Linked DNA regions of Homo sapiens: region 2 is linked to region 1. Evidence: fine-mapped expression QTL. A gene starts in region 1. The other region holds a variant in brackets. All regions are shown on one strand. Distances are from middle to middle. Region 1 holds the start of GNAZ (G protein subunit alpha z). Region 2 overlaps RSPH14 (radial spoke head 14 homolog).

Region 1 (2,500 bases):
AGCTCAATCCCCAGGGCAGGGAAATCACTTGGGCAGAAAGGAGCCGGTCAGGGGCTCAGCTGTCTCCCCAAGCAAGACAGACCTCTCTACCAGGCGGGTCCCTCCACCCCAACACGGACTACGCGGAACGCTGGTCTCGCTTGGCATCATCCTCTTGTCTCAGTTAACAGGAGCCCCCATTCTCGGCCTAGGCCGAATCCTGCCATCATCACCCAGGAAGGCTCAGCACCGCCCTAAAGGCAGAGCCCCCTCGGATCGCCCGCAGGATACGGAGCGCCAGCCCTGAGGCCCTCACTCCCCTCCCCCAAACACCCCCACCGCCTTTTAAGGGAAAAAATATTGAGCCGGGAACGTATTACAATCGCAGCAGGTCGATACTCATCTCTTCCTCTAAATGCCTGTGAGGAACCTGCTCGCTGCAAGAGCAGTGACCGAGAACTGCTAGCTGTCCGTCTGCGGGCCCAGGTCCTCGGGCCCAGGCCTCTGGGGCCCTCTCCTCGGTTTCAGGCAAGGCCCTGCATCGGCTCCGGCCGCCCCTCCCTGATCCTCCCCCTAGGGAGACCCGCCTCAGCGCCGCTCCCGCAGCTCGCCTGGCCCGCCCGGGCTCCGCATCAGCCGCTGCTTGGGGGCGCCCGGCGGCCCCGCGCGGCATCCCCGGCGCCCTCTGTCCACCCTCCCGGGTCCTCAACCGCCCCCTCCCGCGGGGTCATCGGCTTGGCGGCGCATCCCTCCCCCAGCACCTGCCCGACCAGAGGCCGCCCCCTGCCCACCTCGCAGGCGTCCCCGCCCTTGGTGTCCCCCACCCCTGAGGGGCATCCCTGACGCTGCGTCCTGGCGGATCCGGGGCACAAAGGCCTGGGAAGAGTCCCAAGTGGGGGCAAGGTGGATGCCCCGGCCGTGCCCCCGACCCCTGAGGCTCAGCGGCGCGCGGCCGGCCGCGGGTCGGCTCACTCACCTCCGGGCCGCAGCACAGAGCATCTGCCGAGCTGCTCCGGGCAGGGCGGGGCGGGGCGGGGCGGCGAGCACGGGGCCGCGGCGCCCTCGTTCCGTACGACGCGGGCAGCGGCGCCCACGCGGGGACGTGACCGGACCGCGGGCGGCGCACACGCTCCGGCCGGCCTGGTTCCCTCCGCCCGCCCTCCCGCGCCGCCCGCCGCCCGCCGCCCGCCGCCAGTCCGCGGGTCCGCCCGCCCCGCGCCGCGCCGCCGCCGGCAGGGGGCGGAGCCGCGAGCGCAGCCCGTTGCCAGGCCAACCGCGGGCGGGGGGGTGCCGCGCGCCCGCCGGGCACCACGCGCCGGGCACCTCCGCCCCGCCACGAGCGCCGGCCCTCTGTCCATTGGGCACAGGCAGCTGACGGACGGGCCAGTAGCCCAATGGGGACGGACAGGGGCGGGGTCGCAGCTCCGCGCGCGCCGCAGTCCCGCAAGAGCTCCCCGCGCCGGCGTTCCACCGACTCCGCTGCGCTGAGGCCTGGTAGCCGAGCCCCAGGGGCCACCTCTGGCAGCCCGGGAAACCAAGCCTGAGCCCAGCCATGGTCCTGGCCCTCTTTACTGCAGCCAGTCCCGGCTCGCCTTCTCTCCACTCGGGTTCAAACCCAGTTCGGCCTCTTGTGAGCTCTACGTCCTTGGGCAACCGACTGACCTCTCTCAGCCTTTCTGTTTGCAAAGTGGGGCTAGTGGCACCTGCTTTCCTGGATTGTCTCACCAATCCTTCAGAACGTGTGAAAGGCCTATGCAAACCCTAACGATTTACACCGGTGAGGTTTGTGCAGCGATGGGAGGGAGCATTAGTCATCTCTGCCGCCGCCCCCCGCCGCCACCGCCCAGTGTCTAGGGGCTCTTTGGCGTCCCTGGCAATCCTGGCACACGGAAGGGTGGCCTTGGGAGGGAAGGAAGGGAGAAGGACCGAGGAGCTGGCCCCCAGCCCAGACAAGCGTGAGAGAGCCAGTTCAGTTAAGGCCACTGATTGGCGCTTTTGGGAAGCTGGTGGAAAGCATCAGACCCTCAGCAAAACGCAGCTGAACCCAGGCTGCAAAATTCTGTTTTCAATTTCAAAGCCTATCTGTGGACCTCAGGGCCAGGAGTCCCTCAGTTCCATGCTTAAAAGACTCTCAAGCCAGAGGGCCAAGACATGAATGCTCCTGTCTCTCTTCTCCATCTTTGTAAATCTGAAGCTTTGTGTATCCTAGAGCATCCCTGACAAAGTGCAAATGCCTTCCCAGCTAACGCGTTCCTTATCACCTCACACCTTTGTAAGGTGTGGATCATGCCATTCTTTGAGCAGCAGCCCTGGACCTGACCATGGCAGAGGTCCATGGAGCGGTCTCTCCATCATAGCTCTGTGGTGGAGGGGCAGGGGCATGTGCCTGGCTTTGCCAGCTGGACACTGTGGCATCTCAGCATCATCCCATAACCTCCCTAGGAATGTTTCCTCTTCTGTGAGATGGAGACCATTGCGTTACGTACCTGCAGGGTCATGGGCCACCTGTGAGGGTGCTGCC
Region 2 (2,500 bases), 35 kb before region 1:
ATTCCCAAGGGTGTTGGTCAAAGTTGCTGAGGAGGCAGAGCCCCAGGGTAAGTGTGATATGTGGCGGGAGTCACGTGACTGGAGGTGGTGCCTTAACAATGCTCAAAGACTCCCAGTCCTGGGACAGAAAATTCCAAGATGGTGGGAGCATTTGCTCCGAAAGGGCCTGGAGCTCCTGTGTCCTGCTCCCTGGCTTCACACCCAGACCCAGAAAGGGAGGCCGTGGGCACCCTCAGCACCTGGGTCCCACCTGCTCTCACCTTGACCCCATAAGCTCTCCTGCCCAACTGGGAGGACTGGCCTCTTCCAAAGCCCCAGTCCACTTCTGTTTCAGCTGAGAACTGTCTCCTATTTGTTTTTGTGTTAAATCTTGCTGCTTTTAAGTAACCTGCACCCCTGCTCCCCACCAGCCAGTGTCAGTCGCTGAAGGGAAATTAACAAACAGCATGATACAGGTGTGTTGTAGATTGGAAGCTGTCAACACAGACACAGGCCTGGCCAGGAGCTTGCACGCCATCACCATGCGAAGAAAGCACAGTGTGAGAAACCCCTCCTAGTTTCAGCTCCAGAGGATCCCCAGGAACCCAAGGCCGACACCCTTGCCTGGTTTGCCTTTGCTTTGTTCAGCAAGGTGGGTGCACTCTGCACTCCTAGCCGCTGGCACTGCAGCCTCGGACCCACACCTGTAGGCTCAAGGGCTTGTGAACCCCTCTGCAGCAGGCTCAGGCTCTTTCCTGGGAGGGACATGAGAAACTGGGGGTAGTGGGGAGAGATCCCAGTGGGGAACCTCTGCCTATGGCCAAAAAGATGGTTTTCAAAAATATTCATCCTTTAAAAAAACATATTTGGGTTGTTACTGCTTGAGCTGGGTGGCCCTGTGGGGCAGGACCTTGCCCATAGTCACTCCTCCAGCTGAGCCAAGTTGCCTTCGAGGCTCTGGGCCCCCTTGGTCAGGATGCTGCTGTGCTTCTCCCCTGGTCACCACAGGCCAGGAAAAGGTGTGTGGGGCTGTGGCC[G/C]TGGCCGGCCTGGGCTGGGAACCTTAGGATACAAGGCCCAGGGCCCCCAGTCGACTCTGGTTTCATTATTAATGAAATTAGAGAAAGTACCTGAGCTGAGGACATGTCCACCACGAGGTGTGATGAAGCAGGGATTAGGGTGAGCTGCAGCCAGGCTCCTGGGCTGGCCTAAGCTTGTCCACTATCCAGACGGGAGCCACATGCAGAGAGAAGAAACACCTTTCACTCTGCCCTGGCCAACACTGGGTGTCCCCCCTGAGATGCCCAGGGCCATGCACCCTAGCTGACTGTCATTCCAATCCCTCCAGAAACTAGACTGAGCCAGTGGGGCCTCAGGTGAAGAGGGCTATGCATCCGGTCAGCACAGAGCCTTGCTGCTGCATCCTGTCCTCACTGCTTGTCTTGTTCATGGCCAGTCACAGGACTCCCCTGAGTGGCAGATCCCCCCATCTACACTGGTTACTAGGGATCCCCAAGTCAGCAAGGCCCCCAGCACTCTTAGCCTCCACCTTGGAGTCTGTTCTAGATAGTGGAAAATTGTTTTTCAGTTACTGGATTATACAAATCCCTTAAAACAATAGTAATCTGTGTCTTAAAACCCAGAGCTGTTCTCATGTGTGTGTACTGAGCAGAGCTAATGCGCTCAGGAAATTAATTACCCACTGGCCTGGGCAAGCCTAGCCGATGCAGGTTGAGGGGATGTGGGGTGGGAAGCAGCTCTGCCCTGAAGCTCTTGGAACAGTTCAGACAGGGTATCATTGTGAGCATCCAGCCTGATCACGAGGCAGAGCAGGAGGTGTATAAACTGGGAGGGACACAGTCCTGGGGCTGAACCCTGGCTCCGTCATCACAGGGCGCTCAGGCAGCGACACCCACCCTGGGCCACACTGGGGACTGGACACTGTGCCTGCGACCTTGCCCTGCCTGCTTAGACCTTACACCGCCTGGTCCTCCGTCATCCCGCTGCAGGGCACTGTGCATAGCTCTGTGCTCTCCATGGCCCCCGACAGCCCCCTCAGTCCTGCCTTTGTTGACTGTCCCCACTGCTCCCCCACAGCCTTGACTGGATTCTGCAAGGTCCAGATCAGATCACCACCCCCACGTTCATCCCAATCTGTGCAGGCCTGCTCCCAACGTCTAGGCCCCCGTCTCTCCTGCAAATGTTGGTCTTTGGGACAGAGGAGGCACCTGTTCCTGGCTTCTCTGCACCTAGAAAACTGTTTCCTAGGGCAGGCTCAGGGCCAGTCACAGAGAGCATGCGGCCAGCATTTGTAGGCACTGGGGAAGCCAGCCTGAGGCCAGCCCTGGCTACACAGGTCCTCCAGGGCCTGCTTGATGCCATCCCCAGCTGACCTGAGGGAGGAAGGGATAGGACTGCCTCTGTCCCTAGACTGAGTTTGTCAGGCCCAGGGCCCACACATACTGGGTGAACAAGGACTGCTTCCTGCAAGGATGCCACAGGGCTTGTTCTCAGATGGAGAACA

Evidence for each region. PIP is the estimated chance that this variant, and not a neighbour inherited with it, causes the effect.
Region 2: its variant is fine-mapped to the expression of GNAZ in whole blood (TOPMed, PIP 0.95).

The regions. Positions count from the first base shown.
Region 1 is chr22:23,069,026-23,071,525 of GRCh38, reverse strand. It overlaps GNAZ (G protein subunit alpha z), which reads right to left and starts at 1,007. Exons shown (of 3, transcript NM_002073.4): 1 at 956-1,007. The region is part of intron 4 of RSPH14 (radial spoke head 14 homolog); the gene reads left to right. RefSeq lists an enhancer at 1-306 and silencers at 913-1,052, 1,193-1,332.
Region 2 is chr22:23,103,677-23,106,176 of GRCh38, reverse strand. The region is part of intron 4 of RSPH14 (radial spoke head 14 homolog); the gene reads left to right. All of the region lies in intron 2 of GNAZ (G protein subunit alpha z), which reads right to left. Among named protein-coding and RNA genes, the nearest start is that of GNAZ, 34 kb to the right of the region's middle. The variant G/C (reference allele first, on the strand shown) is at 1,017.